Homo sapiens: one gene and its partners. The protein of the gene in region 3 purifies or fractionates together with the protein of the main gene of each other region. This does not show direct contact. Each region holds a gene or a part of one and is shown on either strand. Other genes may lie near its edges.

Region 1 (3,500 bases), on a different chromosome or scaffold from region 3:
CATATTATTTTAAGTGCCAGTTCATAGGCAAATTATGAGCAGATTTATATACTGACCTCCCTAATCCTCGCATGATTTGTAGAAGAAAACAAGTGAAGCCCCATTCTCTAACTATTATACAATAGTTGGGTTACTGGTTTCATACCTTTAGGTGTTATTGTATAAGCTCTAGTCTCTCCGATGTTGTTTTTAGATTGCTAACTCAGCTACTATATGTTGGTTATTAATTTTTAGAATAAATTATTTGGTGACCCAATTAAAGAAATTTGAGATGGGGTGGCGAGTAGCTAGGATCAAAAGTTACAAATGGATTTTGTTTTCATTTAGATGCCGCCGAATCCTCAAATGGCTGTAGCAACAACATGAATGCCTGTCAGCAGATTTGCCTGCCTGTACCAGGAGGATTGTTTTCCTGCGCCTGTGCCACTGGATTTAAACTCAATCCTGATAATCGGTCCTGCTCTCCATATAACTCTTTCATTGTTGTTTCAATGCTGTCTGCAATCAGAGGCTTTAGCTTGGAATTGTCAGATCATTCAGAAACCATGGTGCCGGTGGCAGGCCAAGGTATGCCAACTCCAATATAAGTAAGATTTGACTTCATCTGGCACCAGGTTGAAATCCCTGGTGCCATGAAAACATTTCTTCATGTGTGGATTCAGTGCATAATGAAGCTTTCCTTTCCCTTTAAATCAACTGGCACAGCCTAAAGTGTTTTTCAAACTTTAGTGTGTCTCAGAATCACCTGGAGGGCTCACGCCAACACAGCTCCAGACCTCGTCCCCAGATTTTTCTGATTTTGTAGTCTAGGGTAGGGCCAGAGAATCTGCACTCCTAATAAGCTCCCAGGGCATGCTGACGGTGCTGGCCCATGGATCACGCTAAGAACCACAGGCCCAGAGCAATATAGAATGTAGGATGGGTTTGCAAGAAGTACTACAGAGTTGGTGTTCCAAAGAACTGTGCCCTATTTCTGATTATTAATGGAGATTTATGGTAGAAGGTATACTACTATTTAATATGGTAATGAAATAGTCCACAAATATGATTTATTAATATATATTTGGTGAATTGAAGCAAAAGAGTTCACAGTGTCAGTCCCTCTTTAGTAATCATATTTTTGCAGCACTTTGTGCTTACATACTGTGAATGTATGAAACGATCACTTGCTTCCTAGATGAGCCAAGGTTTTTAGGTATACCTTAGCACAAGAGGAACTAAGAGTTTTCTAACATCGCTAGGAGAATGTCACAGGCTAAAGAGAGAAATAGAGGGTAGAAAGGAAGGAAAAAAGGATGAAGTCAATGAAGGGGTTGTAGAGATGGTCAGAAAATACAGAAATGCACCTGGAGAAGGGAATCAGAGAGCTTCCAGTCCCACACGTCCTCCTGCCTGATGGTCATGTTCACGTGGACCCATGACTCATCTTTGTTTTTCCATATCTAAAAAGTTATGGATCTAAGTTATCATCTTGTACAGATATGACAAATTCAATAGTTTTTTTCTCCCAGCTTTTCATTAAAAAAATGTTCAAACACAGAAACGTTGAAAGATTTAGGAAATATCCTTATACCCTTTACCAAGATTTAACAGTTGTTAACATTTCTTCACATTTGAGCTCTCAATTTGTATGTGTGTGTGTGTACATGCATATGCATTCACATTCATTTTTTATGAACCTTTTAAAAATAAATTTTAATACCATGCCACTTTACCCCTACATATGTTAGCATACAGTTTCAAAGGGCATTATGAAATATTCATAATCATATTTCTCCAGTTGGCCTCACAATATTTTATATATAGCTGTTTTGTTCCATCCAAGATCTAATCAAGATTCATGCACTGCACTGGGAATATCTCATTAGTTTCTTCCAGTTTGGAGTAGTTGCCTCTAGCTTTTTGCTATGACATTGATGTTTTAAAGAGGCAGACCTGTTGTCTTTGAGAATCCCACACTGAGGATTTGTCTGAATATTTAGTCTGTCTTTCATTTTTTACCCTGCAGTTCTCATGAAATGGAAGTTAGGTCTAATTGCTTGATTAGATCAAGGTTAAATACATTTAGCAATAATACTTTATAGGTTATGCTGTGTTAGTTGATACAGAATCTTATTAGGAAGAACATAATGTCAGCTTGCCCTGCTCTTAGTGGCATTTGAGTTTGATCACTTGGTTAAGGTGGTCACTGCTACACTGCTGCTTTTTAAAGCTGTATTTTTTTTCCTTCTTAATTTTGGTGGAATCTATGCAATCACACTTAGGCCCTGTGAATGTCTTGGCTCCCAAGCACCTTTTACCCATTGGTTTTGGCAGCCATGGATGATCCTTGTTTGAAATGATTATTTAATCGAGGATTGCAAAATGGTGATTTTCTTATTTTAGCATTCCCTTTACATTTGTTAGATAATATTCTTCTATAAAGGAAAGCTCTTCGTGTCTCCCCGGTTTACTTTTTAAATAATTTATTATTATTATGGGCTCAAATTTTTATTTTTTAAATTCAGTGTGTTACAGTCAATTACTGTAATCCTTCTTTTGATGTTTTAGTGGATCCATTTTGGCCAGGGAGAACCTCTTCAAGTGGCGACCTGTATATTTCTGTGTATGCCTTGTTTCTTGGTACAATAAGATGTTTCACACTCACTTCGTACCTTCCCTGCCTAAACCTATAATCAACATTTCTCCCGGGAGCCAGAGCTCCTTATTGTGGGAAAGAGTAGAAACCAAGATGTGGGTCTGCTCACTGCAACTGGGAAAAAAGGGTTTCATTTTGTAATGGGGAGATGCTCAGAGCAGGGGGTTGGGAATGAGGGTTTGAGAGGAAGGGCAGACATTTAAAAGTTCTAATTTCAGTGACAGCATTTTTTAATGATCTTTTCTTAACTTCCAGGACGAAACGCACTGCATGTGGATGTGGATGTGTCCTCTGGCTTTATTTATTGGTGTGATTTTAGCAGCTCAGTGGCATCTGATAATGCGATCCGTAGAATTAAACCAGATGGATCTTCTCTGATGAACATTGTGACACATGGAATAGGAGAAAATGGAGTCCGGGGTATTGCAGTGGATTGGGTAGCAGGTATGTAAGCTATATGGTGATTTTAATATGTTTGCATCTCTGTCATCTTATTTTATGCTAGAAAGTTTAGCCTAACTCCATGTGCTACAGGTTTGTTTTTCTAGACAATTATTAAGACCATTTAAGATACATTGAATCTAGATTAAGCTACGTGTCTATTTGATAAATGATACGGTGTTTCAGTTTACAGATTTATAACAAATTAATCCTTATCATTTTCTTCTGTTATTAACATAATCTGGAGACAAAAGTGGCTAAAATATTAAATTATGTGGATTTGTTTTTTTTACACTTAGATTTGCACCTGATTTCTGCATTAGAAATTTTCTAAATTTTCAAGAGAAAGAGATATAAAAATATAAACTATGGAACAGCATTCATTTGCTTTGAAGCTGAGCAATTTTAGTTGCCAAATTCT
Region 2 (3,500 bases), on a different chromosome or scaffold from region 3:
GCTTGAAGGAACATTAAATTAACTCAAGTTATAAGGTGACTATGACGTCCTTTAAGTAAAAATGATCTGGGAAACCCAGTTCATATAATGATCATGGAAAGCCAATGCAAATATTTTTATAAGATTAATTTTGGTTAATCAAACCTGGAAAGTTTGGTACTATTTTCCATCATTCTCCCACAGATATAGTTTTTATATAGACCCATTATATTGGGGGGGGGGGGTGTTACTATGCTCACAGAAAAAACTCACAGAGAAAAATACACAAAATAATATAAAAGATATCACTCAGAATCAACAGATGTTGACATTTTTCTCTAAGTCTCCTTCTTTCCAAATAGTTTTTCAGATATAGTTCAAGTCCTACTCCTCCCATCCTTTTCCCATCTACCCAGACACAACAGTTCATATGATTCTCATAATCTGCTTTATCCTTCCACATTGGACTCTATTATTAAGCACTTATTTTAGCATTAAAAAATGCAGCCCCCAGTTAGCTGTATTTTACTTAGTATTAAGAAACAAAAGACAAAAATCTACAATGCATTCTCTAATGTCTTTAAACAAGATTTAATCCATAGACGTTGTAATCGGATTTGCTTCGAAATAACACTGAGGAGGAGGGGAAGGGGAAGGATCCGAGACACAAATTAGCCATGAACTGAGGAGTGTCAGAAGTGGATGATGAGCATGCAGGGCTTCACTATACTATTCTCTTGAACTCAGCCTACATTTAAAAAGTTCTCTTTATAAGAAAGCTGATGTAGCCCTATAAGAAATAAACTGACATAAAAATATTCCAATATATAAAATGTTAACAACACATTTCCCTAGGAACATTTACTTCTAAAAGTAGAAATTATATAAATGGTTTAATTATGTATCATCTGATGCCAAAGAACAGTGTCTAAAATATTTGAAGCTATTTGAAATAACTTAGTTTACCATATAAATTAAAACTGACCCAAGACTAGAAGCTAGCATATGACAGGAATAAACTGTTCCCTCCACCCATAGTGCTGTGATTTACAGGCTTTAAATAGTTACTTCTCTTTATTTTTCTTCTAATAAGGACAAGAGAGGGGAATGCAGTCTATTGTGAAAACAGAGAAGGCAGAGGGTACGCATCTCAATGGACTGGCTGGGGAAAGCTTTCATGATCAGAAAAACGGGCACCCAGGAGGCGGCCAACGCTGATGGCCATCAGGCATTTGTGAACAGCATTTCTAAGAACTAATACTGTGGACGAGGGGCATCAATTAGATGGAGGAAGTGCTGAATTTCTTCCCCCATTTCATCCTGAAGTCATTTAAGTATATATTCTGCAAATGTTTATGGTCTAGGTGTTAGAATTTGCTTTTTAAATTAATAGTGAGGGGATGAGAAAATAAGAGGTTCCCCTCACCCTAGCACCAACCTCAAAAAAGTTTTAATCACAAATTTTTATAGACTACGGCTACCCAGAAACTAAAGTATCTCCTCAGTCACTCTAATGATTCCCTTTAGACTCAAGACCCCAACAAAGTCCAAACAATTCACAGGAAAAAGTTTTTCATAAGAACAAAGAGAAAGCACCCAACTCATCATAAAGGATTTCAAATTCTGGTAGAGTCATTACTAACTTTTTTTTTTTTTTTTTGAGACGAGTCTCGCTCTGTTGCCCAGGCTGGAGTGCAATGGCGCGATCTCGGCTCACTGCAAGCTCTGCCTCCCAGGTTCACCCCATTCTCCTGCCTCAGCACCCCCGCCCCAGTAGCTGGAACTACAGGCACCCGCCACCACACCCGGATAATTTTTTTGTATTTTTAGTAGAGACACGGTTTCACCATGTTAGCCAGGATGGTCTCAATCTCCTGACCTCGTGATCCACCCGCCTCAGCCTCCTAAAGTGCTGGGATTACAGGCGTGAGCCACCACGCCCGGCCTGTCATTACTAACTTTTAATCCTCACTCAACTTTTCCTGGGCCAGGCATAGTGGCTCACACGTGTAATCCCAGCACTTTGGGAGACTGAGCGGGGCAGACTGCTTGAGCCCAGGAATTCAAGACCAGCCTGAGCAACATAGGGAGACCCAGTCTCTACAAAAATGTTTTTAAAAAATTAGCCGGGTGTGGTGGCACTCACCTGTGGTCCCAGCTACTCAGGAGACTGAGGTAGGGAGGTCGAGGCTGCAGTGAGCTGTGATTACACCAATGCACTTCAGCCTGGGCGACAGACATTGTCTCAAAAAACAACAAAAAATGTTCCCTTGGCAAGTAAACAGTAGGAGAGGAATCTCCTTCCAGCCATGTGGATTGCTGGGAAGAAGGCAATATGCTAATGGTGATCAAGTAAGAAAGTGCTCTCCTATAGCGTATCCTGGAATGGAGACCATCCTTTGAGTATTTTGTATCTGCAGTTTGAGATACTCTGTGTAGTTTACAAACACTTAAAAAGGAGGAATAAATTAACATTTATTGAGCACTTGCACTCATGATGTATGTGAAGTTATTTAATATTCATAATAATACTATAATAAAAAATTGCTATCTCTAGTTTGCTGCTGAGGAAAATTCAATTCAGTGTTAGTAACCTGCCCAAGATTACGAGACTGAGAAATGACAGAAATATTACCTGACCTAAATCCAATGGTATAGCAGCCCATTCTTTTCACTACAAATTGGAGGTGTAGTAAACAAAAAATTGCTATCAGAGAATCTTTCAGAGAATCTAAAAACTGCAAGTGACAGTAAAAAAGTAGAGTTTACATTCTGTATAGAAAAACAAAAGTCCTTTTTACAAGTATCTCTGTTAAATGATTCCTCTCCTAGGCTACAGGATATGTGCAACAGGTACACACAGTGGGCACATGGAAAGAAAATATGTATACTTACCATTGGTAGACAATAAAAACTGAGCAGCATTTTTCTGGGGTAACCACCTAATTTTGTTGATCTTTTCTTCTATTTCTAAACTTTTCAAGTAGTCAAACTCTGGTTCATGGCTCTGGAAGGTGCTGTAAACATTATATTCTCCTCTGCTATGAGACTGGATTTTGTTCTAAAATGAAAACAAAAATATATGGACCATTGTTGAAAAATATTTCAAAATAATCAAATATGTAATCAATTCCAAAGGACCCTGCACATTCTCAATACCCCATTAGTTGTGTCTTTATACAATTACATTCTGTTTTTTATATTTCTAAAGGCCTTCAAGGATTAAATGAGAAAACTTAACGGGGGAAAAGGCTAAATAAAGCTGAATAAATAAGCTCAATTCATTAGGGAAATAATGACGTTAAATATGGATCAATTTGATTGCTAATTTACTCTTATGTATTTGATGGTATAGTCTATGAAAAAAACTGATGAAAAAAAACTGAGCACCCATAATAAGGAAGTTCATCTAAAAATAATGATAAAGTCTTGCCCAGAAAGAGCTAGGTGAGGCACACCTTCTTCCTATGCCCACTTTAGGGTCAACTCCCCGATCTGTTATTTAATATGATGTATTGTCC
Region 3 (3,232 bases):
TGACATAATGAATGTGCTGTTCTCTGTGCTCTGAAAGTGTATGGGGAGGCTAAACAATTATCTTTGAGGTTTGTTAGTACCTATGAATTATTCATCAATCTTAGAGTTTCTAAAATTATTCTCACAGAATTATCATCTAGTGGGCAAAGAGGTCATCTTGTCTGATCACACCCAAACAGAATTATCCTTAATACTCATCACTTAAACAAAAACAATTGGAATAAAAAGACAGAACACTACACTGTTTATGTATTGTGTCCAATATTTACACACCATAGAGAGATATAGATTTTACAGAATCTAAATATACAAAATACCTAATGGTTTAATTTGATTAAATAACAGTAGTGAATATGCACACGAAGTGAGTTCCATGTGTTACCAAATTGCAATTGACTATGCTTTACATGTTTTAAAAATCATCACTTTTGATGAAACTTGCTCTTAGATTCAGACTAGATGTCTGTATAGTCATCATTTTTAACACTGGCAGCATAGTAAAGTCAACTGGGGAACTCTTAAAAGAAATGTATGTCTAGGGCCACACCACCGAAGACACCGATTTCCTGGCAATTGGTTTGGGAGAAGGCCCAGACATCTGTATTTTTAAAGTTCTGCGGGGTAGTCTAATGTCAGCCAAGGTTGAAAATCACTGCTTCACGTAGTATAGCTAGATAAGTGAGATAGAGAGGTCTCCATGTGCAGCTTCTATTTTGAAAGTCAGTCATGATTCCTCATTTTAGCAAGTTCTCTTTTTCTTTACCTCCTCTTTCCATTCAGAATTGAGTTCAAATATTTCTTTACAGCCATTTGTTTTCTAAGGCGGGTATAGTTGTCAGTGAAGACTGCATCTGAGTGACGTTTGACTGGTACAGGGTCTTCTGAGATGTTACTGCTAAGGAACATGAGGAAAAGGAAATCAAAGAGTTTTCACAAGAAATGATAAATACACACATGTTCCAGGTTTCTTGGAGCCACATAAAAAGCAATTCCCACCCAACTAATTTTCTATCATAAAAAGACTAAAAGAAAAATACAACTAAACCTAAGGATGAAGGAAAGCAAGGAATCATCTGCCATATTTTGGCATGGCCTGGGACTGTTTTATGACACATTCTGTACAGCTGAGCAAATAATTCATCCAAAAATAAAAATTTGGGAATAGCTGAAGTTGTGCTCTGCCATTGGGAGAAATTTTTTTTTTTTTTAAAAAAAACATAATTACTTCTTTAGAAGCTATGCTACCCTGAGCAACGTCATCTAAATATTTGACTGTTGGCCATTTGGAATTCTCCATTTAATTTGAGCAGGAAGTAAAAAGAATATTCTGTTTGACCTTAAAATTTACCTCAGTCTGTACTATCTCTTTTTGATTGTTTTACTGAGTCTTGTTCAATTTGATTGCAGATTGCTAAATGATTGCTACTTGAGAAAAATGTGTGTCTGGAGTCAATGAATATGATATTATGAAAAAGTCTTAGTCCATGGGCTTGATAGATGTTATTGAAGAATACAAGTTATTTCATTTAACTAAATTAAACATTATCAACGAGTTTTCAATTTCAAACAAAGTAAATAACTTGTTAAGAGTGAAAATACAATATTCAGATTGAATAATGATAACATATTTTATAAAAATAATAAATTCTCTTTACCTAACACGTTTTCCCATAAGAGACTCAAGGTACTTTTTGGCAGAAAGTTGACCCAAGAGTTTACTGAAGTCACTGGTGAAAACTCCATCAGCATGCCTGGCATTTCTAAAACAAGGAAGAAAAAAATAGCTATTATTTTGTAAATGGCTTTCTAGAATATTATTATGGCTTATTAAATAACAAAAAAATTATGGGCTTATTATGAAAGCTTCTCATTAAAACTAAAGTTCAAAAGGAGATTTCTTAACACCCTAACAAAAGAGATCTTCTAGTCACTTATATCAAGATATACCCTATATTTCTAGCCCAAGACACTGAAAAATTAAAGAAACAGGCATTTCTAGGAGCACATTTCAATATTCCTCCATGGTTGAATCTTTATAACTATTTCTTTCTAAGAAATATTGGTGTAAAAATATGATCTATTTAAATTAGCTGCTATTTGTACATGGTGCTTTGTGTCTGCCCCACTGAATAAAGACATTCACAATGGGAAAATATTCTGATTTTGGAAAGTTCATAAACCCCAGTACACCTTTTTTTTTCTTTTTCCAAAATATTTGGAAACAAAATCTCTTAAGATAGAGAAGGCATTAAGGCCTATCATCCCACCTTTTCTCTTTCAAATGAAGCACCTTTTATACTTTGTCTGTACCAAGTACTATAGAGCTACTTGGTCTGTACTTGAAATGATGCTCTAGACAAACAGCTCTATGAATGAACAGCTCTATCAGGTATCTTTTCTTTATATAGAGACAAAACTCCTTGGCAACTCTTCCATCATTGGAATGCTAAATGCTGTACTTTTATCAGAATTGGTACAATCTGTGATGTTGGAATTATGTGCAACAGAATGGAAGTGAATGGTGTGTTCATCCTGGCTTGTTACAACCTTTCAGTATGAAAATTATGTACAGCTGTAAGATCTGCAGTAAATCAGGATGAATGAAGCCATGACACATAGAAACCTCTAGTGTTTTGCTATCGGAATAGCTTCATGGTGAGATAAAATAAGCACGTTTATAGTTCTTAAACACATTTTCTAAAATAAAACTCATTGGATAGTTTTATAAAAATAAACTCACCTGGATACATCATAATAGGGTGTGTCATTTTCAGCTAATGCATTTTGCAACATGTCAATGTCTTCTTTTAATGAAACTTGATCAGGTTCATTTGCTCCCTCAAAGGGTATTCTGTCACCCAACCTGATGGGGAAAGTTACACGAGAATAATACATTCTTTTTTCAGAAGACAGTGTGTATGGTTCCGCAACCATTTAAAATAAGATACTTAGACTCTTGGGAAGTATTACCCAGTCATAATATGAGAATAGCATAATTTGACTTAATGGCTCATATAGTTAATGAGAGTATAAATAGGAAATTCCTATTATCCTATAAAGTAGATGCCATATGACTTTTATAAGCTGAATATACAAAACACAAGAGCTACTTAATTCAATCTTATCAGAGCATTAAGCAAACTATACTTCTTTGGTGTAATTTACTATGCCAAGAATATCTTCACTTTGCAAAGTCAAATTTCGTATGTAGAAATATTTTATGCAAAATAGA
Region 4 (3,500 bases), on a different chromosome or scaffold from region 3:
AGGCGGGCGGATCACGAGGTCAGGAGATCGAGACCATCCTGGCTAACAGGGTGAAACCCCGTCTCTACTAAAAAAAATACAAAAAATCAGCTGGGTGTGGTCGCGGGCACCTGTAGTCCCAGCTACTGGGGAGGCTGAGGCAGGAGAATGGCATGAACCCAGGAGGCGGAGCTTGCAGTGAGCGGAGATCACGCCACTGCACCTCCAGCCTGGGCAGCAGAGCGAGACTCCATATCAAAAAAAAAAAAAAAAGATTCACAGACTCATCATGCTTAGTACAGCCACATCTTAACGCTCAGGAGGCTGGCCTGGTCATCGTTACATCGTGAAGTTAAGTTTACAAGATATGTGGTGGTATTGAATCATACCTGGTGATTTTCCACGTTCCCTGATTTTAAGCAGTCTGCTGTTCTGATGGGAAGTTCCAGGTTGGGTTTGTGTCTGCTGTTTTCAACTCTGAGGGCCCCTTTCTGAGCTTCAGCTCGCTTATCTAGAAGTTAAATCAGAAGCTTTTTGTTAAGATCAAACAATGTGCAGTGCTGTTGCAACTTGAAAAGTGCTTTTCAAGTATTAGATACAACTGTTAATTCTCTTGTATTTTAAAGTATTGGGGCTTGGTTTTAGCTATATTTAAACACAAAAATAGCAGTTTCTTGTTTTTCCTTACCTGCTTCATGTCCATCTACCCAGATCCCTTCCACTGGGCCTGGCCTCTTAATGTTTACGTTATTATTCAGTGATTATTCCCATCCCTTGATCTTTGCTCCTGTTTCTTTCTTTGCCTAGAGTATTTATTTTGCTTCCTGTCCATTCCCTAAGCCCTGCTGATCCTTCTAAATCCACCTCCAATCCCACTTGGCGAGTCCCTGCTCCAGCTCCCCTCAGCGTTCAGTGTCGTCTTAGACTCCAGATTTCCCTTTCACACTGTGTTCCATGTTGTTTAGCAATTGGCTGTGTCCTGCTTGTGGTTCCCTTATTTTATCACATGTATTATTAGGCTCGTCTCTCCCACTGGATGTCAGTCAGCATATGGAATGTCATGATATTACCAGGTGATGGAGAGGAATTGTGCACGTGGAATTTGGTACACATCCCTTTTTCACCCTCTTCAGGCTTTGTGTTAACTTGGGAAGTTACTTACTCTTTTCTCATCTGTTAAACGGGTACTATTACTTGTGACCATTACAGGGTTGCTGTGAAGATTCCAGAAAATGTATGGAAAGCTCTGACAAACAAACACGTTAACTGGTAACTGTTCAGAGGCTGTTGTCTTAAGAGACCCTCTTGCATAGGAAAATAGCTGACTCTGTCACTTCAGGGAGCCAGTTTAAGAAAAATGAAGGGTAATGCAGGGGCCAGCTTTCAGCTTGGCACATCTGAAAAGTTCACGACAGCATACCAAAGGGCTGCTAGTGCTGGCTGTTGGAAATAGAAATGCAGTTCTTGCCTTCAGGAAACGCTGTTTGGACACAGACAAGCAGGTGGGTCCTTGCACCATGGCTGGACCAGAGCACACTGAGGCAATGTGAAGAAGTACCCAGTACACAGACTTGGGTAGGGAGTGGAGGGGAGGACATCAGGGTATAAGAAGAGGGAGGAAGGGAAGGGGAGGAGAATGTTCCAGGTGGAGAGTGCTTGGTGTGGAGGTTGGACAGAGCATGGTATGTTCTGAGAGGTCAGTGCTTGGCATGGTCCTCTGGCAGAAAAGGGAGTGGCTGTGATGAGCAGGAGGCTGGCTGGGGCCACAGGATGATGAATAAAGGACTTGAATCGTGTGCTCAGGACTCTGAGTGATTGTGAGCTTTTCAGATCCTAAGCGGAGGAGCGACATCAGCTTTGTTTTTAACAAGGTCACTCTGCCCTTTGGAGAGTGGATGGTGGTGGGTAAGAATGGAGATAGGAAGTTACTGCAATAATAAAGATTGGGAAAATGGGCTTACTCTAGTTTCGGGGTGGCCAAGCTTTTTTGTAAAGGGCCAAATGGTAAGTATCTTAGACTTTCAGGCCATCCTGTCCCTGTTGCAACGACTGAATTCAACTCTGCCTTTAGCAGGAAGACAGCCATAGACCCTGCAGAGATGGATGGGCGTGGCTCTGTGCCCTGCTTCCACAGGAGCATGCCTACAGAAAACAGGCAGCTGGCCAGATGTCGCCCAGGTTGTGGTTTGCTAAACCCTGACCTAGAGTTGGTTTGCAAAGTCTTTTGGTGCTGGAATAATTTTATACTCTTAATAGTTATATTGAGGATCCAGAGAGCCTTTGTTTGTGCTGGTTATCGCTGTTGATGTTTTCTATATTTGAAATTAAAACAGAACAACTTACAATATTTATTTTACTTTAAAAGAATCTACTACATGTTAACATAACCTTTTTAATGAGAAACAACTTTTCAAAAACAAAAAGATTAAGCAAGAAGAACAGTGTTGTTTTACACTTTTGCACATCCTTTTAAAATATGAGGTTTAAGAGGTGACGGCTGGATTCTCAGACCTGCTTCTGCATTCCGTGTGTTCCAGTTGCTTTATTGAAATGTGTAAGGAAAATGTGGCGTCACACTTCCATGTGGGCAGAAGAGGGGTCATCCTGGAGGCTCTTAGCGATGCACCATAACTCGCCAGGTGGCAGCGTGTTTGAGTGTGCCGGCCTTTCGGAGTCAGTGACGTTTCTGTACTCTCTTCCGTCAGAACCCTGAGGTCTGTCTTGTGCTCAGAGTGGGTCTTTTGCTCATGGACATGATTTGGTAACATCACACGGGGGTTGTTTGGAAATATTGTTACATGGAGTTGTTTTTTTTTCTAAATGTTAACACATTCCATTATGTAAACTTGAAGAAAATCCTATTTTTTAATGTCATCACTGATCTCATCAGAAGAAAAAGTGAGAAACTGTCAAATTAGCAGTAGTAGAGAAAAGTTTTCCAAAATTCTAATTTTCTCTTGAAAGCTTGGATTTTATCATTGGTAACAAATACTGTCAGTTACTTTCTGTGAAGTGAGGGACGCAGTGTGTTCATTTTCAAGTCAATTTCTGCCAGATACCAAATTCTTAATAACCAAAGTTGGTCAGTTGTTCTTTCAAATAAAAATGGCATTCCATGAAAAAAAGGGCTAGTTCAGCTTGTGTGATACTGTGGAATATGTATTTGGTCTTCCCTAGTACACAACTCCTAAAATCCTCGGGCTCGTCAGTGATGTCTTCGTAATGCGTTGGCTAAGGGCCGGCAACCCCTGGGTAGCTTCAGAACAGGGGCTGGTCACCAGAAAGACCTAGGCAGGATTAGAAGGTTGGGACTTTCAGCCCCGATCCCCAACCTCGGGGAGTGGTGAGGGGTGGGGGAGCTGAAGGTTAAGCTGATCACCAGTGGCCAAACAGTCTTGCCTATGTATGGACTGGGTTTGAAGATAGCTTCCAGATGTTTCTGGAGGGGGGCCCACCCAGAGAGGACACGGGAGCTCTGTGTCTCAGCCCCCGTCCCTCGCCCTGTGCATCACCTCAGTGTC
Region 5 (3,500 bases), on a different chromosome or scaffold from region 3:
TGTCACCACGCGTCCAGGAGGGTCAGGACACAGCAATCTGAAGAGCAGCATAGCAACAGGCCAGTGCCACAGTGTGCCCCTCACTCATACAGGCGGCAACCCCTGCGCTCCCACCTAAAGTGGGCTGGTAAACAAGTAGTGCTTTCTTTCCTTGTTATTAAAATCCACACTGCAGGCTGGGTGTGGTGGCTCACGCCTGTAAACCGAGCGCTTTGGGAGGCCGAGGTGGGTGGATCACTTGAGCCCAGGAGTTCGAGACCAGCCTGGGCAACATGGAGAAACCCCATCTCCACAAAAAGTACAAAAATTAGCCAAGTACGGTGGCATATGCCTGTAGTCCCAGCTACTTGGGGGGTTGAGGTGGGAGGAGTGCTTGAGCCTGGGAGGTTGAGGCTGCAGTGAGCCGAGATGGTGCCACTGCACTCCAGCCTAGGCAATAGAGCAAGACCCTGTCTCAAAAAACAAACAAAATCCATACAGGAATATATTGTTATAAATCTTTGTGACCTTGGATTGGGCAATGGTTTCTCATGTATGATACCAAAACACAAGTGACCAAAGAAATTGATAAATTGAACTTAATCAAAATCTAAATCTTTTGTGCTTCAATGAAGACCATCAAGAAAATGAAAAGATGGCCGGGCATGGTGGCTTACGCCTGTTATCCCATCAATTTGGGAGGCTGAGGCAGGTGGATCACCTAAGGTCAGGAGTTCGAGACCAGCCTGGCCAACATAGTAAAACCCTGTCTCTACTAAAAATAGAAAAATTAGCTGGGCAGGCCGGATGTGGTGGCTCAGGCTGTAATGCCGGCACTTTGGGAGGCTGAGACAGGTGTATCACCTAAGGTCAGGAGTTCAAGACCAGCCTGGCCAACATGGTAAAACCCCATCTCTACTAAAAATACAAAAATCAGCCAGACGTGGTTGCGTACGCCTGTAGTCCCAGCTACTTGGGAGGCCGAGGCACGAGAATCGCTTGAACCCCAGGGGTGGAGGTTGCAGTGAGTCGAGATCACGCCACTATACTCCAGCTTGGGCAACAGAGCAAGAATCTGTCTCAAAAAAAAAAAAAAAAAAAAAAAAAGACAACTCACAGAATGTGAAAAAGTATTTGCATGTTTCTAAAAGTCTAGTAGCCAGAATATATAAAGAACTCTTACAACTCAACAACAAAGATAATCTGTTTTTTTTGTTTTTTTTGTTTTTTTAGACAGTCTTACTCTGTCACCCAGGCTGGAGTGCAGTGGTGTGGTCTCACTCATTGCAATCTTCGCCTCTCAGATTTAAGCCATTCTTGTGCGTCAGCCTCCCGAGGAGCTGAGATTACAGGCACACACCACCATGCCCGGCTAATTTCTGTATTTTTAGTAGAGACAGGGTTTCTCCATGTTGGCCAGGCTGGTCTCGAACTCCAGGCCTCAAGTGATCCGCCCACCTCAGCCTTCCAAAGTGCTGGGATTACAGGCATGAGCCACCCGCGCCCGGCCCAATCTGATTTTTAAAAAGACAAAGAATTGGATACTTTTCTCCAAAGAAAATACACAAATGGCCAAATATCATATGAAAAGAGGCTCAGGCCAGGTGTGGTGGCTCACACCTGTAATCTCAGCACTTTGGGAGGCCAAGGTGGGCGAATCACTTGAGGCCAGAAGTTCGAGACCATCCTGGCCGACATGGTGAAACCCCGTCTCTAATGAAAAAAATACAAAAATTAGCCAGGCGTGGTGGTGCACGCCTGTAGTCCCAGCTACTCGGGAGGCTGAGGCACGAGAATCGCTTGAACCCAGGAGACAGAGGTTGCAGTGAGCCGGGATCACATGCCTGCACCCCAGCCTGTGCGACAGAGCGAGACTCTGTCTCAGAAAAAAAAAAAAAAAAAAAAAAAAAGAGGTTCAATAACATTAGTCATTAGGGAAATGTAAATTAAAACCACAATGAGATACCACTTCACACCCACCAGAACAACTAAGATTTAAAAAAAAATGGACAAGAAGTGTTAAGCAAGAATGTGGGGAAATTAGAACCTATACACTGCCGATGGAAACGTCAAATGGTGCAACAACTGTGGAGAACAATTTGTTAGTTTCTCAAAAAGTCAAACATAGTTACCATATAACTCAGGTTCCACTTTTGGCTATATATCCAACAAAAATGAAAACATAAGTTCACACAAAAATTAACATACAAATGCTCATAGCAGCATCATTTGCAATGGCCAAAAATGGAAACAAACCTAACATCCATCAACTGCTAATAAATAAACATAATGTGGCATATCCAAATAATACACTATTACTCCGTCATAAAAGGACCAATGGATTCATGCTACAATATGAACGGACCTTGAAAAGATAAGGCTAAATGAAAGAAGCCAGTCACAAAAGGCCACACACTGTATGATTCTATTTATATGAAATGTCCAGAACAGGCAAATCCATAAGGACAGAAAGTAGATTAGTGACTGCCAGGGGCTGGGGGACAGAGGGATGGGAAGCTCCTGCTAACAGGTACAGGTTCCTTTTTGGGCTGATGAAATGTTCTGGAATTAGATAGTGGTGATGGTCGCTCAACTTTGTGAATATACTAAAAACTACTGAATTGTACACATTAAAAAGTTAATTTTATGGTATGTAAATTATATCTCAATTTTTAAAAATCCACACCATGGCCAGGCGTGGTGGCTCATGCCTGTAATCCCAGCACTTTGGGAGGCTGAGGCAGGTGGATCACGAGGTCAAGCGTTTGAGACCAGCCTCACCAACATAGTGAAACCCCGTCTCTACTAAAAATACAAAAAATTAGCTGGGTGTGGTGGCGGGCCATCTGTAATCCCAGCTACTCGGGAGGCTGAGGCAGGAGAATCACTTGAACCTGGGAGGTGGAGGTTGCAGTGAGCCGAGATCGTACCACTGCACTCCAGCCTGGCCAGTAAGAACGAAACTCCGTCTCAAAAAATAAAAATAAAAAAATTCACACCATAGCCAAATAGGGTTCCCTGGGTCCACCCTATCCAATGTCAGCAACACAAGAGGCAGAACACATGTGGAACAATTTCAGAGAGGATACAGACAGTATAAAAGTTAAGAGAAACATTCCCCAGAGAGCTCCCAGCCTGGAGAAAAGGCTGACAAATCTTTAGGCCCCAAATGAAGATCTAATCCAGTGGTTTTCAAGTGGGGGGCAATTTTGCCCCCCAGTGGGACATTTGGCAATGTCTGGAGACATCTTTAGTTGCCATAGCTGGGTGGGGAAGTGCTACTGGCATCCAGTGGGTAGAAGCCAGGGTGCTGCTAAACAATGCATGGGACAGCTCCTTACAGAAACAAATTATCCAGTCCAAAATGTCAACAGTGCTATGGCTGATCAACTGTGGGTTTAATCCAACGATGGGTTCAATTGCTTTTTTAAATCCTAGGATTTATATAACCTAGGGACCTGTTTGATAATACTAATTCCAAATATGTCAAAACTTCTACAAGTAGCGGAGCCTGCCTCAAA
Region 6 (3,500 bases), on a different chromosome or scaffold from region 3:
CCCAGGCTGGAGTGCAATGGCGTGATCGCGGCTCACCGCAACCTCTGCCTCCCAGGTTCAAGCAATTCTCTTGCCTCAGCCTCCCGAGAAGCTGGGATTACAGCCACACGCCACCACACCCGGCTAATTTTGTATTTTTAGTAGAGATGGGGTTTCTCCATGTTGGTCAGGCTGGTCTCGAACTCCCGACCTCAGGTGATTCACCTGCCTCGGCTTCCCAAAGTGCTGGGATTACAGGCGTGAGCCTCCGGGCCCGTTCAGGCAGTTCTTTATAGCAGTGCGAAAACAGACTAATACAGACCTCAATCTCATACTACATGTAAAAATAAATTCCAGATGGACAAAAGACCTAAGTGTACAATGAAAAACCTTAAATCTTTCAGTAGAAAACATATAAGCATTTTTTTAAACCAAGGTGAAGAAGATTTCTTTAACAAGATACAAATAATACAAACTGTAGAAGAAAAACTACATTTTTAATTTAAAATCGTTTACAACAAAATTATATATTTCAAGGTAAAAAGACAAGACACAAACTAGAAGATGAAATTAAGTATTTATACAACAAAGGATCAGCATCTAGAGTATGTACAGCATTCTTAAAACTCAGTAAAACAGAAAAACAAAACAGGCAAATAATATGAACCAGCAGTTCACCAAGAAAGAAGCCCAAATGGCCCCAAAACATATGAAAAGATGTTCAACTTTACTAGTCAAGAAAATATAAATTTTAAAAAGATGTTTGTATCCAACAGATTGGTAAAATATTATAAATTTATATATATAACACCAAGTGTCTTTTGGTTTTTTTTTTTTTAAGTTCTGAATTACATGTGCAGGATGTACAGGTTACATAGGTAAATGGTTGCTGTGGTGGTTTGCTGCACCTATCAACTCATCAACTAGGTATGAAGCCCAGCATGCATTAGCTATTTTTTCTGATGCTCTCCCTCTCCCTGCCCCCGACCCAACAGGCCCCTGTGTGTGTTGTTCCCTTCGTGGTGTCCATGTGTTCTCATTAACACCAAGTTTCAATAAGCAGAAAAACAAGACCTCAAATTCCTGGTGGGGCCAGGCGTGGTAGCCCATGCCTGTAATTCCAGCACTCTGGGAGGCTGAGGCGGGAAGATCACCGGAGGTCAGGAGTTCGAGACCAGCCTGGCCAATATGGTGAAACCCCCATCTCTACTAAAAATATGAAAATTAGCTAGGCATGGTGGCGGCCGCCTGTAATCCCAGCTACTCAGGCGGCTGAGGCAGGAGAATTGCTTGAACTCAGGAGGCGGAGGTTGCAGTGAGCCGAGATCGCACCATTGCACTCCAGCCTGAGTCTGATGGGGACAGAGCGAGTTTCCATCTCAAAAAAAAAAAAAAAAAAAAAAAAAATATATATATATATATATATATATAGAGAGAGAGAGAGAGAGAGAGAGAGAGAGAGAGAGAGAGAGAGAGAGAGACAGTGCACACAGGAATTTCAGGAAAATGGTTAACGTCTGGAGAGGAAAAGAGAAAGGGAAAGGTGGGTTGACCTTTCTTTGGTTTTTTGACTAAAAGCAACTCTAGAGCAAACATGGCAAAAGGTTAATATCTATTCATCTCAATGGTAAGTACAAAGGTATCTGTTATACTACTTTTGTACTTTTCTGTAAATTCAAATTGTTTCATAATTGAAAATAGTTTTAACTGAGTTTTATAATGATTTAAAAATTAGGCCACGCACGGTGGCTCACGCCTGTAATCCCAGCACTTTGGGAGGCCAAGGCAGGTGGATTGCCTGAGGTCAGGAGTTCCAGACCAGCCTGACCAATATGGTGAAACCCCACCTCTACTAAAAATACAAAAATTAGCTGGGCATGGTGGCATGCACCTGTAGTCCCTGCTACTAGGGAGGCTGAGACAGGAGAACCGCTTGAACTCAGGAGGCAGAGGTTGCAGTGAGCCGAGATCATGCAACTGCACTCCAGCCTGGCAACAGAGTGAGACTCCATATCAAAACAAACAAACAAACAAAATATGAATATTTTAGGTGTAGTATTGGTATTGTGGTTTTGGGGGAGTTGTTTGTTTTTTGCTTTCTTTTCAAGAGATGAGGTCACTTCATGTTGCTGAGGCTGGAGTGCAGTGACTATTCCCAGGTGTGATCATAATCCACTGCAGCCTCTTACTCCCAGCCTCAAGCAATACTCCCAACTCAGCCTCGGGAGTAGCTGGGACTACAGGTGCGAGCCACCATACCTGACATTATTTTTTAATTGTGGTAAAATATAAATAACATAAAATTTACCATTTAAAACATCTTAAGTGTACAGTTTTAGTGGCATTAAGTACATTCACATTGTTTTGCAACCATCACAACCATCGATCTCAAGGACTTTTTCATCTTCCCAAACTGAAACTCTGTACCTGTTAAAAAAATAACTCCCCAATCTCCCCTTCCCTTGGCCTCTGATAATCACTATTCTACTTTCTGTCTGTATGAATTTGACTATTCCGGGCACTTCATATAGACCGAAGCATACAAGCATTTGTTCTTTTGTGCTGGGCCTATTTCATTTGGCATAAGGTCTTCAAGGTTTATCTACATTGTAACATTCTAATGTGTCAGAATTTTATTACTTTTTAAGGTTAAATATTCCATTGTACGTATATTCCACATATTGCTTACCCATTCATCTGCTGATGGACATTTGAGTTATGTTTTAGAGTTCACATCTCTTTACTGAGATGCATACTCAAATATTTTTAAATTAAATTATAAGGTATCTGATATTTGCTTCAAAATAGTCCTGGCTGGGACGAAAAAGCAGTGGGACAGGGAGATAACAGATGAAATGGGATATAACTTTTCACTTATGAGAGCAGCAAAGATCAGAAACACTGATACCACCATATATACTGCCAGAATATGGGGAAACAAATTGTTTCATACATTGTTGGCAGGAATGTAAATTAATTTCTTTGGAGGGTTCTATCAAAGTTGAATTTGCAAATTTCCTTCAACCAAGATATAACTTCTAGGAATGTATCCTCATACATAAGCTCACACACATATGAACAAGTGTATACAAGAATACTGACTGCAACAATGTTTACAACAGCCCAAGTCTGGAAACAATTTAAATGTCTATCAGTAGGGACTGACCGCAAAAATCATAGTACATTACAAAAACATGGAAATACAATGAAATACTATTTAACTTTAAAAATGAAGCAGTTCTACTTTTGAGATAGTATCCATAAATATGTTAAGGGGAAAAAAGCAAGCTACTGAAGAGAGTAACACTATTCAACCAGACATTCACGTGGTTCAATTTCTGGCTACCACAGATCAGAAAACCTAAAAACCTCCCACAACACAGGCCAGGCACCACACTGTGGCTCACGCCTATAATCCCAGCTCTTTGGGAGGCTGAGGCAGGTAGACTGCTTGAAGCCAGGAGTTCAAGACCAGCCTGGCCAACATGGTGAAATACCATCTCTACAAAAAATACAAAAAG
Region 7 (3,500 bases), on a different chromosome or scaffold from region 3:
GCAAAATATTTTAACTATAACTTTTAGTGCTGGTGAAAAAATACTACTTATCGTCATAACAACATGTATTTCTAGGAATATTATTCCTAAATTAAGGTGAAAATGTGAATAGTCTTTGATTAAGTAAGGCCCACAATTCTCTTCATTTTACTTGTTTCAGTGCTGAATAAACATGGTCCTGAGGCTTCTCAGAGTCCACAGGAAAATAGAAAAAGTCCAAACTATTAGGAAAATCTTTCTTTGTTTTGGGATATCTTACGGAAACTCATCAGGTCAAAAACACTTTTCCAGAACTCTAAAGTACCACCTATGAAACAGACTGATAGGATAATTCAGTTCTACCTTTAGTGAGTTTCCTTTACAAAAGTCTGCTCTGAAAGAGTCTGTGAATTAAGTATCAAACTACTTTTAAGGAACTGAACTATTTGACAGCGGGGGTGCTGCCATCTGCCCCCAGCTGGGATGGTGAGCTGAGGCTTCTGGGCTCATTCCTTATAGCTAAAAGCAGGTACCTGGTTATTTGTCCAGGACCTGCACTAAGCTAGGTTAATAAAGAAAGATGATGAGGAGGACAATGAAAAGAAGGTTGAAGTAAAGAGTTTCTGATGAGGACACTAGTTTGGAGCAGGACAGACTGCTTGTTTGGAAGGGAATAACCAGCACAAGCGCCCCCCTCCCCTTGTATTTCCAGCTGCAGTTCCCCTTACCACATACACATACCCCATAGGTCCTTACCGTAAGTACTACGCCACACGGTACGTAAGCACAGTGAGCCTCTACTACTTAGCCAGGTGCTGAACATTCTGGTTCTTACCTTTATTTCAGAGGCTGCAAATTCAAATGCCCATAGGAGCCAGGTGGGCCATGCACATGAAGAAGTGGGCTTCATGGGGACTGTGGCAAACCAGAGAGTGTCTGTCCTGTCTAAATAAACAGGTGCTACTGGGGCCAACCACCTATTGCTACCTGGAACATAGACCCACTATAGCCATTTTTAAGAGAAGCCAGAAGCCACTTTCCCCAATTTTTGAATGTTGGCATTAACACACACCTATGCACATGCACACACACACTTCGCAGACCTAACAAAACGCCTTTGCAAGCCCATCAGTGCCACAGGGCTGCCTACTTGCAATCTCTGCTGTGTGGGTTCTTTTCGTTTCAGCTTGTACAGATCTAGCCAGGTAAGGTGGCAACAATGTCAGGGCTTCAACCTGGCCTTCAGAATGCTCCAAATTTCACAATTTGGCGCCAACCCATCTCTCCCAACTTTCCCCTCTGGGAAAGTCAGCTAGACTGGCCTGGCCCTTGCAAAATGGGCCCCTGAAACAAGCCAGGCCTCTTTCTTCTGTGCTACGTGAGGCTTCCCCTTTATTTGGAAAGGCTTCCTCTTTATTTACTGTAATCCTATCCAATCATTTGAGGTTCAAGCTTAATCCTACTCTCTGATTTTTCTTTCACCACTCAAAGTGAAAGTGAACTTTTCCTTCTCTAGAGCCCTGTAAGAATCACATGACACTGGTATCAAGGTTATTTTTTCCCATTTATATGCCTGCTCTTCCTATCTAGATGGCGAACTCCAGGTGGCAAAAGACTGAGAATAACAACGACAGGCTGAACATGAGGGAAGGAAGGTAGCTAGGAGCCCCCACTACTGACCATGGGCTGCTGGTTTCTTTACATGAATTGATGAGTGTCTAACAGGCTCTTCAACATAGGTGCTGCTGCAGAGAAATGCTGAGAGCCAACAAGATAGGCAATTTTACAACCAAAGTTTCCTAGACTTTATTAGTTATTTGCTTTTAATACATTTATAACTTTACTGTGAATATTATAAAATATTATCCAAATTATTTTTCAACTAATTTCAAAGATTCACTGCATGAATTCTTTAACTTGTACTAAGAGAAAAAATCCTTAAGAGTAAAGATAAGTGGTCGGGCACGGTGGCTCACGCCTGTAATCCCAACACTTTGGGAGGCTTAGGTGAGCGGATCACTTGAGGTCAGGAGTTTGAGACCAGCCTGGCCAACATGGTGAAACCCAGTCTCTACTAAAAATACAAAAATTAGCCAGGCGTGGTGATGCATGCCTGTAATCCCATCAATTTGGGAGGCTGAGGCAGGAGAATTGCTTGAATCCAGAAGGTGGAGGTTGCAGTGAGCCGAGACTGCGCCATCGCACTCCAGCCTGGGCAACAGAGCAAGACTCTATCTCAAAAAAAAAAAAAAAAAAAAAAAAAAGTAACGATAAGTGTACTTTATCCTCCAAATATAGGTTAAGAAGACAGGTGAATAATAGAAAGCTGAAGCTAATGCATTTTAGGATAATAGGTGGGATGAAATTTGTTTCTAAAACAGAAGCACTTACATAAGTAGCTGACATTTTACAAAGTGTTTGCTATGTGCTAGGCACTATTTAAGAACTTTACATATTAGGCCAGGTGTGATGGCTCATGCCTGTAATCACAGCACTTTGGGAAGCTGAGACCAGCAGGATCACTTAAGGCCAGGAGTTTGAGGCTGCAATGAGCTATGATCACGCCACTGCACTCCAGCCAAAAAAAAAAAGAGAGAGAAAAAAAAAAGAAAAAAGAGAACTTTACATATTAGCTCATTTAATCTTTAAAACAAACCTAGGAGTTAAGTATTTCCACATTACAGATGAAGAAATTAAGGCATGGCTCAGTATGGTGTCTCAGGCCTGTAATCCTAACACTTAGGGAGGATCACTTGAGGCCAGGAGTTTTGAGACTTGCCTGGGCAACATAGAAAGACCCTGTCTCTACCAAAAAAAAAAGAAAGAAAAATAAAGAAATTGAAGCAAACAGCAGCTAGGCAAGTTGCCCAAGTTAGTAGTGAGCCTCTTGGTGGTGAGTTGGGACTCAAACCTAGGGAGTCTAATTCCTAAGTCAGGTCTTACCTACTTCGACACAAAGGGCTCTAATGGATGAGACAATAATTAAGGAACGAGATCATCTAGTCTAGTATTTATCAATCTCATATTAAAGATATACCACATTTATAATATGTCAAGTAAAAAGGATTCATATGATTACAATATACCGCTCTTTTCAGAGACATTGAATAGAATTAGATAAATGAATATTATCTGCTGGCAGCAAATTCACTACCACTCAACTGGCCTTTGCCCCTTTACAGATGTATTTTCCAAGTTACCGATAACCCTTTGTCCTGTATCTACAGACTCTAATAGCAATCAACAGACAAGCCTAAAGTGCTTTCACTAACTTCTGAATTCTTACGGCAAATTAGTCCATGCAGAATCAATTTACTAATTTATACCCTCTGGTGTCTTCAGGTATGTGAGCTGTGTCTCTCCTGACTGGCCTGACCTCGAGGCCTGGCACCATGTCTTCTACTGACCTGCGGGTTTCAAGTGCTGAGTGTGCTTCTACAAGTTAGATTTCAACATATATATGTTGATTTGGTCGATTATACAAATCACATTTCATACAAAATGAGTTGTATCAACAACCA

What was found.
Region 1: the proteins of VIP (region 3) and LRP2 purify together in Homo sapiens (affinity purification with mass spectrometry; 2 studies listed by BioGRID and IntAct, with this or other methods). This does not show direct contact.
Region 2: the proteins of VIP (region 3) and PPP2R2A purify together in Homo sapiens (co-immunoprecipitation; one large-scale study listed by IntAct). This does not show direct contact.
Region 4: the proteins of VIP (region 3) and PPP2R2D purify together in Homo sapiens (affinity purification with mass spectrometry; 2 studies listed by BioGRID and IntAct, with this or other methods). This does not show direct contact.
Region 5: the proteins of VIP (region 3) and NISCH purify together in Homo sapiens (co-immunoprecipitation; one large-scale study listed by IntAct). This does not show direct contact.
Region 6: the proteins of VIP (region 3) and UBR3 purify together in Homo sapiens (affinity purification with mass spectrometry; one large-scale study listed by BioGRID and IntAct). This does not show direct contact.
Region 7: the proteins of VIP (region 3) and TNRC6C purify together in Homo sapiens (co-immunoprecipitation; one large-scale study listed by IntAct). This does not show direct contact.

The regions. Positions count from the first base shown.
Region 1 is NC_000002.12:169,209,035-169,212,534, reverse strand, and holds part of LRP2 (low-density lipoprotein receptor-related protein 2 precursor), read left to right. Parts: intron 1-327; coding exon 328-567; intron 568-2,893; coding exon 2,894-3,082; intron 3,083-3,500. UniProt on the Homo sapiens protein: Multiligand endocytic receptor. Acts together with CUBN to mediate endocytosis of high-density lipoproteins. Mediates receptor-mediated uptake of polybasic drugs such as aprotinin, aminoglycosides and polymyxin B.
Region 2 is NC_000008.11:26,354,008-26,357,507, reverse strand, and holds part of PPP2R2A (serine/threonine-protein phosphatase 2A 55 kDa regulatory subunit B alpha isoform), read right to left. Parts: intron 3,041-3,500; coding exon 2,875-3,040; intron 1-2,874. UniProt on the Homo sapiens protein: Substrate-recognition subunit of protein phosphatase 2A (PP2A) that plays a key role in cell cycle by controlling mitosis entry and exit. Involved in chromosome clustering during late mitosis by mediating dephosphorylation of MKI67.
Region 3 is NC_000006.12:152,753,797-152,757,028, reverse strand, and holds part of VIP (VIP peptides isoform 1 preproprotein), read right to left. Parts: intron 2,864-3,232; coding exon 2,741-2,863; intron 2,154-2,740; exon of another isoform or gene 1,761-2,153; coding exon 1,656-1,760; exon of another isoform or gene 896-1,655; coding exon 764-895; exon of another isoform or gene 1-763. UniProt on the Homo sapiens protein: PHM-27 and PHV-42 are two bioactive forms from proteolysis of the same precursor protein, that cause vasodilation. PHM-27 is a potent agonist of the calcitonin receptor CALCR, with similar efficacy as calcitonin.
Region 4 is NC_000010.11:131,907,508-131,911,007, forward strand, and holds part of PPP2R2D (serine/threonine-protein phosphatase 2A 55 kDa regulatory subunit B delta isoform), read left to right. Parts: intron 1-3,500. UniProt on the Homo sapiens protein: Substrate-recognition subunit of protein phosphatase 2A (PP2A) that plays a key role in cell cycle by controlling mitosis entry and exit. Involved in chromosome clustering during late mitosis by mediating dephosphorylation of MKI67.
Region 5 is NC_000003.12:52,462,104-52,465,603, reverse strand, and holds part of NISCH (nischarin), read right to left. Parts: intron 1-3,500. UniProt on the Homo sapiens protein: Acts either as the functional imidazoline-1 receptor (I1R) candidate or as a membrane-associated mediator of the I1R signaling.
Region 6 is NC_000002.12:169,833,954-169,837,453, reverse strand, and holds part of UBR3 (E3 ubiquitin-protein ligase UBR3), read right to left. Parts: intron 1-3,500. UniProt on the Homo sapiens protein: E3 ubiquitin-protein ligase which is a component of the N-end rule pathway. Does not bind to proteins bearing specific N-terminal residues that are destabilizing according to the N-end rule, leading to their ubiquitination and subsequent degradation.
Region 7 is NC_000017.11:78,087,703-78,091,202, reverse strand, and holds part of TNRC6C (trinucleotide repeat-containing gene 6C protein), read right to left. Parts: intron 1-3,500. UniProt on the Homo sapiens protein: Plays a role in RNA-mediated gene silencing by micro-RNAs (miRNAs). Required for miRNA-dependent translational repression of complementary mRNAs by argonaute family proteins.